Linked DNA regions of Homo sapiens. Each later gene encodes a partner of the first gene's protein in a complex. Each region holds a gene or a part of one and is shown on either strand. Other genes may lie near its edges.

Evidence for each region.
Region 2: LSM2 (region 1) and LSM7 share a complex: the UniProt entries of both Homo sapiens proteins name them as parts of the precatalytic spliceosome.
Region 3: LSM2 (region 1) and LSM8 share a complex: the UniProt entries of both Homo sapiens proteins name them as parts of the precatalytic spliceosome.

What each region holds. Positions count from the first base shown.
Region 1 is NC_000006.12:31,805,650-31,809,397, reverse strand, and holds the start of LSM2 (U6 snRNA-associated Sm-like protein LSm2), read left to right. Parts: upstream 1-2,431; 5' UTR 2,432-2,640; coding exon 2,641-2,643; intron 2,644-3,255; coding exon 3,256-3,323; intron 3,324-3,748. UniProt on the Homo sapiens protein: Plays a role in pre-mRNA splicing as component of the U4/U6-U5 tri-snRNP complex that is involved in spliceosome assembly, and as component of the precatalytic spliceosome (spliceosome B complex).
Region 2 is NC_000019.10:2,321,863-2,325,610, forward strand, and holds part of LSM7 (U6 snRNA-associated Sm-like protein LSm7), read right to left. Parts: intron 2,335-3,748; coding exon 2,263-2,334; intron 1-2,262. UniProt on the Homo sapiens protein: Plays a role in pre-mRNA splicing as component of the U4/U6-U5 tri-snRNP complex that is involved in spliceosome assembly, and as component of the precatalytic spliceosome (spliceosome B complex).
Region 3 is NC_000007.14:118,187,106-118,190,853, reverse strand, and holds part of LSM8 (LSM8 homolog, U6 small nuclear RNA associated), read right to left. Parts: intron 2,577-3,748; coding exon 2,449-2,576; intron 1-2,448. UniProt on the Homo sapiens protein: Plays a role in pre-mRNA splicing as component of the U4/U6-U5 tri-snRNP complex that is involved in spliceosome assembly, and as component of the precatalytic spliceosome (spliceosome B complex).

The DNA.
Region 1 (3,748 bases):
TATTGTTTTAGTAGAGACGGGGTTTCACTGTGTTAGCCAGGATGGTCTCGATCTCCTGACCTCGTGATCCGCCCGCCTCGGCCTCCCAAAGTGCTGGGATTACAGGCGTGAGCCACCGTGCCCGGCCCATGAACTCATTGTTTCAATCAGCCACATAATTTTTGATCCTCAGACACCTTTAGCACAGATGGAACAGATGGCAAACTATAACTGCTTTTAATCAGTTACAAGCTGGTTTTGGAGTTTAGGACTCAACTGGGGGTGGAGGGACAAATCCTGCTTGATGTCCTGATGTCACTTATAGGTAAGGTCCAGGAGATTCAGCATCTATGCACTCACAGAGTTCATTGTTTACATCCATTACATGGAGAAAATATTTCTTTTCTTTTTTTTTTTTTTTGGAAACAGTTTCGCTCTTGTCGCCCAAGCTGGAGTGCAATGGCACGATCTCGGCTCACTGCAAACTTTGCCTCCCAGATTCAAGCGATTCTCCTGCCTCAGCCTCATGAGTAGCTGGGATTACAGGCGCTCACCACCATGCCCGGCTAATGTTTGTGTTTTTAGTAGAGACGGGATTTCACCATGTTGACCAGGCTGTTCTGAACTCCTGACCTCAGGTGATCCACCCACCTCAGCCTCCCAAAGTGCTGGAATTATAGGCGTGAGCCACCGTGCCCAGCCCCAGAAAATATTTCTATAACAAACTCTTGACAAATAAGTATGTCTATGCAAGATGACAAATACAAGTTTTATGAAGTCTCAGTCCATGAAAAAATATTTTTACCAGCTGGGCACAGTGGCTCACGCCTGTAATCCCAGCACTTTGGGAGGCCGAGGCGGGCGGATCATGAGGTCAAGAGATTGAGACCATCCTGCCCAACATGGTGAAACCCCGTCTCTACTAAAAATACAAAAATTAGCTGAGGACGGTGATGCGTGCCTGTAGTCCCAGCTACTCAGGAGGGTGAGGCAGAGGAATCGCTTGAACCCGGGACGTGGAGGTTGCAGTGAGCTGAGATCGTGGCACCACACTCCAGCCTGGTGATAGAGCGAGACTCCATCTCAAAAACATTTTTTTCTTTTACCTGTGTCCTAATACATATTTATAAAAACCTGGGGGATATGAGTTAGAATAATATGTAACTGCATTTCTGTCTGTTTGTGTTTGAAACATTTAACAGTGAAATGTTAGACTGGGTTATTTGTATCTGTGAGCCACAGTCTCTTTAGTTTTACACAGTCCTTTACAGGACAGTCTTGGCAAAAGTGTGTAAGAAATGCGGAGATTGAGGTTGGCTCCTTTGGAGAAATGTATTTATTGGTAACCTTTGATAAAATCAAAATTTGTGCTCCAGCTCCTCCTTATCTCTGGGACTGCTCAACGTTGTTTGTTTATAATTTTCTTTTTTCTAGAGAGAGTCTCGCTCTGTCACCCAGGCTGGAATGCAGTGGGGAGATTGTAGCTCACTGTAACTCTTGGGTTCAAATGATCCTCCTGCCTCAGCCTCCCCAAATGCTGGGATTTACAGGCCTCAACATTTTTTGTTTTTTGGGATGGAGTTTTGCTCTTGTTGCCCAGGCTGGAGTGCAATGGCAAGATCTCCACTCACTGCAACCTATGCCTCCTGGATTTACAGGCGCGTGCCACCACACCCGGCTAATTTTTGGGTTTTTAGTAGAGACAGAATTTCGCCATGTTGACCAGGCTGGTCTCGAACTCCTGACCTCAGGCGATCCACTTGCCTTGGCCGCCCAAAGTGCTGGGATTACAGGTGTGAGCCACTGCTCCCGGTCATTTTTTTTTTTTTTTTTTTTGAGACGGAGTCTTGCTCTGTCGCCCAGGCTGCAGTGCAGTGGCGCGATCTCGGTTCACTGCAACCTCCGCCTCCCAGGTTCAAGCGATTCTCTTCCCTCAGCCTCCCGAGTAGCTGGTATTACAGGAGCCTGCGACCACGCCTAATTTTTTTTGTATTTTTAGTGAAGATGGGGTTTCACCATGTTGGCTAGACTGGTCTCGAACTCCTGACCTCACACAATCCACCCACCTAGGCCTCCCAGAGTGCTGGGATTAAAGGCTTGAGCCACGGCCCTCGGCCTTTTTTTCTTTTTATCAGCTGAATTTAAGATTCAAAACATTTTTTAATTTTATTTTTTAAATTTTATGTTTTTACTTTAACAAATATAGAAAAGTGCACACTTCATAATCTTAACAAACTCCCCACAATTCTCGATAGGAAGTGTGTGTAGGGCACAAACACATCACGCTGTAGATGGCAGGATTCTGGAAAAGAACAAAATCCTTTGAGCTCAGGCGCTGAGTCCCGCCACCCGTCTGGCAGCCCAGGCTAGGGTCCGCGCCTGCGCAATGGGAGCCGGCCGGCCAGGGAGGAAGTCGGAATGAAGGAAACCCCGCCCCTTTCCCGGCTTCCTCCTCCCCTCTACTCTACCCAGCTTGCGCTCCCCAGCCGCAAGTCGGCCGCGCTTTGCCCGTCAGCGCTTGGAGCTTTCTGCGTCGCTTCCCGCTGCGCCTGCGCGGTCCCGCCTCGCCCCACGCGCGGGCTCGCGCTTCGGTTTCCCCAGACCTGCTCGCAGCACCCTGCTGTCTTCCCGGTCCGGCCCGCTGCCCGCGGCGCCAGCACCATGGTGGGTACCGTGACGTCAAAAGGGGGCGCCCTCGGGGACCTCGCATGGTTGGGGCGGGGGATCTGGCCTTTGTACCCCTAGGCTGGAGTTAGGTCCGGAGTTTTTATCTTCATCTTTAGTACTGTACTGTTTCTCAGGTTCATTGAGGAGGCACTGAGAACAAATGGGATATTTTTTCCATGATGAGGGAAAAAACCCCAACCCTGAGAGAGATTCAGTGAGGATAGCGGGAGACGGAAAAGTTAGACCTCAGAGCACTTCTCTGCCAGGCAAGCTTCGGCAGGGTGCGGGTGGGATATTTTCTACAATTCATTGAAAGGAGTGGGCAGGTACCCGAGAAAGGTGGTCGACTGAGAGAGCACAGTGGGGAGGCCGACGTATGCAGGGCAGAGTCTCTCTGGGACTTTAAGTGATGGGCTCAGTGCAGTGTGCAGAATAATTTGGGCTCCAGCCTTTCAGCTCTGTCAACCAATTATTCTTTCCTGTGAAATTTTGAGAACTGTCAGGGATGCAGTGGGGTTCACAATACCAGTATTTGGTAATACTGTCAAAGGACACTCCTCCCTACCATGCTCCTTCCCACATGATGGTTTTCCCCCTCTCTCCCAATAGCTCTTCTATTCTTTTTTCAAGTCCCTTGTGGGCAAGGATGTGGTCGTGGAACTAAAGAATGACCTGAGGTAGGTACCTGTTCCAACAAGTCTGTTGGGGGTGGGTGTGCCCAGGGCCCTGGAACCTCTTTAATTTGAGAAATATTTCAGGGCTAGGCGAGGTGGAAGATGTACAGAAGAAATAAATGGATAGGGTGCAGTGGCTCAAGCCTGTAATCCCAGCACTTTGGGAGGCTGAGGAAGGAGGAAAGCTTGAGCCCAGGAGTTTGAGGCTGCAGTGAGCAGTGATTACTCCATTGCACTCTAGCCCAGGCAATAGAGCAAGACCCCATCTCTAAGAAAAATTTTAAAATTTAGCAATAAATAAATGCCTTGTGCCTTAAATTTACAGATAAGCTTAGAGATTGTATCGTGTATTGGAAAACAATACAAAGCAATATATAGTTTAAAGAGTAAATACAGGTCAGGCGCAGTGGCTCACGGGCTGGACGTGT
Region 2 (3,748 bases), on another chromosome or scaffold:
AAGCCTCCGAGACCCCCCACCCACCCAAGACCCTCGCTCCGACCTCCCCACCTGCACCCTGCAGGCGCCACGAGCACGCAGGGACCTCAGACGGGATGCGCTCTGTGGGGCAGGTCCCCGGCTCCCACGGCTGAGACCCATGGCCCCTAGAGACCAGTGGCAGCTCCACAGACAGCAGCCACAGCCCTCCCTCACTCCACAAACCATGGGAACAAGAAGGCCCAGGTGATAGCCGGCTACCCCGCGTCTCAGAGCTCACTGGGGCCCAGGCACCAGGGCCGGGAACCAGGTTATCAGATGGCCGGCCAGAATACAGGCACCCTGGGCCTCCTGGTCTCTGCAAGGTCCCTGGAGCCCTAGGGGGCCAATATTCACCCTATAACAAAGAGGCTGGGGGCCGGGCGCGGTGGCTCACGCCTGTAATCCCAGCACTTTGGGAGGCCAAGGCAGGCGGATCACGAGGTCAGGAGATCGAGACCATCCTGGCTAACTTGGTGAAACCCCGTCTCTACTAAAAAATACAAAAAAATTAGCCGGGCGTGGTGGCAGGCACTTGGAGTCCCAGCTACTCGGGAGGCTGAGGCAGGAGAATGGTGTGAACCCAGGAGGCGGAGCTTGCAGTGAGCCGAGATCGCGCCACTGCACTCCAGCCTGGGTGACAGAGCGAGATTCCATCTCAAAAAATAAAAAAATAAAGAGGCTGTTCATGTGGGGTGGGGACCATGTGGGCTGGCACCCCAGGGAAGTGCCAGCAAGCCCAAGACAAGCTCTCAAGAGGCTGAAGGCGATTAAAACTCCTCACTACTGTGGTCCTGCAGTGGTGGGGGCATGGGAGAACCATGGGGCCCAGGTTTTTAAACTTTTTTTCAGACACCAGGTCTTGCTCTGTTGCTCAGGTTGGAGTGCAGCAGTGCAATCACAGCTCACAGCCTCAACCTCCTGGGCTCAAACAATCCTCCTGCCTTAGCCTCCTGAGTAGCTGGGGCCACAGGCACATGTACCGCCATGCCTGGCTAATTACATTTTTTTTTTTTTTGTAGAGACAGGGTCTCACTATGTTGCCCAGGCTGGTCTCAAATTCCTGGGCTCGAGTGATCCTCCTGTCTTGGCCTCCCAAAGTGCTGGGATTACAGGCATGAGCCACCATGGCCAGCTACAAGAATAAATCTTGTCTCAGTATCAATGGATCCAAGGGGCAAGACCCTCTCTCTCCTAAGTCCTGACATTCCCCCAGTGCCCGGGCCGGGATGGGGACTTGCCAGCTGGGGACTTGCCGCAGGAGCTTCTGGGGGAGAGTCTGAGGACTTGGCGGCCTCACTGGGGAGGGGAGCGAGCGGGGGCAGGGAAATGAGGGAGGGTCCTCTGGGGAGGAGACAGGGACCCTGCGTTCATAGCGGGAATTAACAAGGGCAGAAGAGGAAAGGCGCCCGAGAGGAGCCCCACGGCACGCTCACTACCCCACAGCAAGGCTGCTCTCCGCTGGGCGCCACAGCTCACGCCTGGAACCCCAGCACTGTGGGAGGCTGAAGCAGGAGGATGGCTTGAGCCCAGGAGTTCGAGACCAGCCCGGGCAACACAGTGAGACCTCAGCTTATCTCTTTTTTTTGAGACGGAGTCTCACTCTGTTACTCAGGCTGGAGTGCAGTTGCACCATCTCGGCTCACTGCAACCTCCGCCTCCCAGGTTCAAGCGATTCTCCTGCGTCAGCCTCCCGAGCAGCTGGGATTACAGGCATGCGCCACCACACCCAGCAATTTTTTTGCATTTTTAGCGGAGACGGGGTTTCACCATGTTGGTCAGGCTGGTCTCAAACTCCTGACCTCAAGAGATCCTCCTGCCTTGGCCTCCCAAAGCGCTGGGATTATAGGTGTGAGCCATTGTGCCTGGCCTCTCACGTCACCAATTTAACAAAAATTAAAATAATAAAACATTTAAAAAGGTTGTCCTCTAACTGTGCCGGGCGCCCCGTCAGTGTGTAGAGACCAGTGGGTGAGCTGGCAGCTCCCGTCTCTCCAGGCCCCACAACAATGGGGTTTCCTGCTTTGTGAGGACGTCTAGGACCAGTGAGCGCTCAAGCCCGTCCATCGGCCGCCACGAGGCTTCACGTTGGTAACTCAGAGGTTTTGTGGGTTTGAGAGAAGAAGAGCCAGCAGGGAGCCCCACGGCTGCCCCCCTCGTCCCACTGCCCCCCTCGTCCCGCTGCCCCCCTCACCCCACTATCCCCCTCGTCCCGCTGCCTGCCTCGGCCGCCACCCCACTCACCTCGCATGTACTCAATGGTGCCGTCCAGCACAAGGTTGAGGAGTGGGTCGAAGCCCTTCAGGATTCCACTGGCTTGGAGAAATCACCGGGGGAGAGAAAAGAGAAGGCATGAGATCCGTCCTGGGCGCAGGGCCCGCCCCAGCATGGCCCAGGTATGGGGCTAACTGCTCCAGGGATGGAGGACTGAGGGTAGGAGAGGGCTCCCGGGAGTGGCCGATGACAGCCGCCTCCAGAGTGATCTCCACCACAGGCAGCAGACCACGTCTGCGGGGGGCCAGATGGCAAACACTTCTGGCCGTGTGGGCCACAGGGTGCCGGTCACAGCTGCTGGCTCGGGCTGCCTGGGTGGAGGCAGCTTCGGTAATGAGTCCATGTGTGGCTGAACTGCGGCCGGTCAGCTCTACTCACAGGCACTGAACTGTGAATTTCATGTAATTTCCACATCGTGAGACAGTCTTGTTTTGATCCCTTTCTAGCTATTTAAAAGTCATAAAAACAATTCTCAGCTCAAAAGCAGCAGCAAAACAGGCGGCGGCACGTGTACGCGGTGGGACCACCAGCCAGGAAGAGGAGCGAGGCTGGCGCAGGCCACAGCGCGGATGCGCCTGAGGACGCACCTGAGGACGTCACGCTCAGTGAGAGACGCCAGACACAGAAGGCTGCGCACCGTGAGATCCCATTTCTATGAAATGTCCAGGACAGGCCAATCCACAAAGACAGGGAAGGGATGCGTGGGTGCCAGGGCCAGGGATGGGACAGGCAGTGATGGCTGATGGGGACAGGGCTTCCTGTAGGGGAGACAGAGTGCTCCGCTCTGACAGCGGTGATGACTGCGCTGCCTGACCTGTGCTGAGTCCCTCAGTGAGTTCACGGAATACAAAAGAACAAATCCCAGCCCTGCTGCTTAGGGCTTGCGGGGAGCAGGCAACAGAGATGCTCTGAGACCCAGGTGCAAAGGCTTCGGGGGCTGAGACGGTCTCTGTGGCTTCTCTCTCCACGCTGCCTGCCCCACCCCTCAAGCTTCGCCGCCTTGGGCCACAACTTGCCAACTTAGGTTAGGGCTCTCTGACCCGGTGGTGATCTCTGCCATCTGATCCTGCTCCGCAGTGTCTGGTGACACTGAGAAGGGTGAAGGGGGAGCTGTGTGTCCCCAGCAGAGGCCAGCCCACCCTCTCTGCCTGGGACTCCCCTCCACTGCCCTGCAGGCTCCTGCAGCCGAGGCCCAGCAGCAGCTCCACCTCTGCGCTCACTGAGGGGCGTCCCGCAGCCACCCCCTCCCTGCTCTCCTTCTTACCCCTGTCATCTTTCAGGTGCTTCCTCCAGACACCAACCCACAGCCCTTACGGTGCTGCCCTCTGCACGCCCACGCCAATCTCAGGAAGCAGGCACCACCAATCTCGGGAAGCAGGCACCACCAATCTCGGGAAGCAGGCACCCCGGGCATTATTCTGCCTGCCTGTCTCCTCCCAAGGCAGGGCCGAGAGCC
Region 3 (3,748 bases), on another chromosome or scaffold:
GGACTACAGGTGTGAGCCACTGTGCCCGGCCAAATTCTAAAGACGAATACTAGTAATAAGGGATTTGCCAAATTTTGCTTTAAAGTATATAAAGTCTTAAATCATCTAATAAATGAAAAATATGAAACTCTGGCAGAATGAATTAAGTTTTCTCAAACTAAAGGCCTCAATTCCACTCTTAAATATTCTTAAATTTTAAATGATAATATTCAGTATCATTTAAAATCCCTATGGTAAGCAGGGAAATGCTGATACATTTTTAAAAACCAGCTCTCTGGAAAAAAAGCGGGAGACTGATTTGCTGCATTTACTAATATCCATTGTGCAAACACTCCCACCACGGCCAATTTCAAGCTACTAACAAGACATCAATTAACCAGCTTGTAAAATTCCTTAAAATATAACAATATGCTTTCATGGGCCAGTAGAAGCTGGCTCTAGCACAAGACTTTTTTCACTGAAGTTCAAGAAAAAAAAATTGTTTTAAGTAGGAGAAACCTTAAAATCAATTACTATGCACAGCTCCAATATAAACAGTGTTGTTCTGATCCAGAGACCTGGGCCCTATCTGCTCTGTCTCTCTCTCATTACTTACAGCTCACCTTGTAACTCCACCTAAAAGTCATCTCTAAAATATTTTATAAACTCTTGATTTTTGATTACAGATCAAATTATTTATTCATCTAAAGGTGATGCTAACATAAACAACTTAAATGAGTAAATTATTCCTGCACTTTTTAAGTTATTCCAGGGGACAGTTAGTCCCCTAGAATTTGTTAAATGTTCTAGCTTAAAATTGCTAATGTATCTTTTGCTTCTTTCCAACTATATTTTGATTCAGTGTAGTACTCACTAGAAAACTGATTTGGCATTCTTCTAGCCTCTATAACTATACTAATACTGGCCACATGTAACTATTAAAATTAATTACAATTAAATAAAATTTAAAATTCAGTTCCTCTGTCACATCAGCCACTTTTCTTTTTTTTTTCAAGATGGAGTTTCACTCTTTTTGCCCAGGCTGGAGTGCAAAGGCGCAACCTTGGCTCACTGCAACCTCCATCTACCAGGTTCAAGAAATTCTTCTGCCTCAGCCTCCCAAGTAGCTGGGATTACAGGCATGCACCACCACACCAGGCTAATTTTTCTATTTTAAGGAGAGACGGGGTTTCACTATGCTGGCCAGGCTGGTCTTGAACTCCTGGGCTCAGGTGATCCACCCACCTTGGCCTCTCAAAGTGCTGAGATTATAGGCATGAGCCACGGCACGTGAACCACATTAGCCACTTTTCTTTTTTATTTTTTGACACGGAGTTTTGCTCTTGTTGCCCAGGCTGGAATGCAGTGCTGCGATCTCGGCTCACTGCAACTTCCACCTCCCAGGCGAATTCTCCTGACTCAGCCTCCCGAGTAGCTGGGATTACAGGCTTGCGCCACCACGCCTGGCTAATTTTTATATTTTTAGTAAAGACGCGGTTTCACCACATTGGCCAAGTTGGTCTCGAACTCCTGACCTCAAGTGATCCACCCGCCTCCACCTCCCAAAGTGCTGGGATTACATGCTTGAACCACTGTGCCCGGCCTTTTTTTTTTTGAATTGGTGTCTCAATCTGTCACCCAGGCTGGAGTGCAGTAGGGTGATCTCGGCTCACTGCAACCTCTACCTCCTGGGTTCAAGTGATTCTCCCACCTCAGCCTCCCAAGTAGCTGGAACTACAGGCGCACGCCACCAAGCCTGGCTAATTTTTGTATTTTTAGTAGAGACAGTGTTTTGCCATGTTGGCGAGGCCGGTCTTGAACTCCTGACCTGATCCACTTGCCTCAGACTCCCAAAGTGCTGGGATTACAGGCACCATGCCTGGCCAATTACTCTTGAACTTTTATATCTGTCTGTCCCAAGTAAACTGAGGCCACAGGGACATCTTAAGTGTGTCAATGATACTAAAAAATTAAAAGAAAATGAATAACGAGTAAGTACTTATTTATAAATACACCTATGTTATTGAGCATGAATTAATATTGTTCAAATCAGAGATTTCAAAACATTTTTCAAACTTTGGCCTTGGACTCTAGAAATATGTTCCTCTAAAATTCTGGGTATTTGAAAGAACGTTTTAAGAAGTCTCTCTAATGAAGTATTTAATATAAGGCAGAGCCCTTTCTGGACTCTACCCAGGCTACTTAACTAGTAGAAAAATGGGCAAATCTCAGGTAAAAGTTTAATTTGTAGAGAGACAGCTTTGGTTGAAACCTAAAGAAGTGCTGACATAAAATGTATACATATGCCTTATTTTACACAAACATAAGAAAAGGTATATTTACGAAAGAAATGAATGCAAGATTCTATTAACTATGTATGGACAATACAGTAGGGTATTTTGGGGAAAGCCTCTTCTCCATAAAGTAAGGCAGTATCATTTATAATTTTAACAGATATATTTTACTTACACGTTGTCACCTCTTACAATGTATAATCCTAGTACCACTTGTTCTACCCCCTGTGAAGAGCTGAATACTCGTTCATGGCTTTCATCCAAAATCAAATTAATGGTCTGGTCAAAACCTTTCAGTGTTCCCTGTAAAGAAAATATTCAGGAGAAAAAGAGAAATATTCTGGTTTACCTGAAAGTGTAAATTTAACCTCACAGTCATTTTAGTTGCCAGGTATTCCAATACAAGTACCTATACGACGGCAAATAAAATGCCTTTTTTATAACCAACAGTATTCGAGGGTACACAATTTACCTCTTGGTTATTTGGCTGGGGTGGGGGGACCTGCACCACACATCTCACTCATATGTAGAGTTGACAGCAGTTGCAAAGGACACCTATGTACTAATGTGACTATCTCCAAGTAAGTAGCATAAAAGCTTATGTAGACCAGCAGCTAAAGGTATAAACTAAGACAAAGGATATTTAAGGGAAAATGATAGCCAAATATACATAAATAAGGAAGAACCATACATACCAACTACAGCAATGTAATAGTATCACTATATGCTATATGCCAGCACTAGGCAGTGTGCTAAACACACTGTACACATTTTCTCAACTCATCTCTACCCTTTGATTTAGTACTATAATTAGCCCCATTTCAAAGAAGAAACTGAGGCACAGAATGGTGTGTCTTATGATCACATGGGTAGTAAGTGGCAGAGCCAGGAGATGAACCACAAAAGGCTAGCTCCTGAGCCAGACCACTAAACCATAACATTCTATACTATTATACACAAGTAAATATAATTTGCCATTTTTCAGATTCAAATCAGTCCCATAAATATACTAAAAATTTAACTAGTAGTTACATGTAACACCTAATGAGTACATACTAGTTACCAGTGTTCTGTGTGTCTCACATGTATTGTTTAATGTGTATCATATGGATTTATTGTTTAATTCTCCCAGTAAGGTAGATACAAATGTGACTATACTAATTAAAACCAGAACTTGAAGGAAATAATCAGGGAGAGTTTTATGAAAGCTTAGTATTGAATAAAAGAAGACATGGGTCTAGCATAACAGAGTAACTCACATGGTATTCAAGTTTCTGAAGAAATATCAACTAACATTGGTTTTGATGGTTAAACCTCTCAAGTTCTTAAACTGTTTTATCTTCTGAAAGTCAAAATATATAAAATGAGAATGAAATAAAAAAGAGAATGAAATAAAATGAGAATGAAATCTGTAACTTGGAAGAGAAACAAAATATGGAGTATTTATTGAACTAGTTAGCAAATGGTTGTTATCA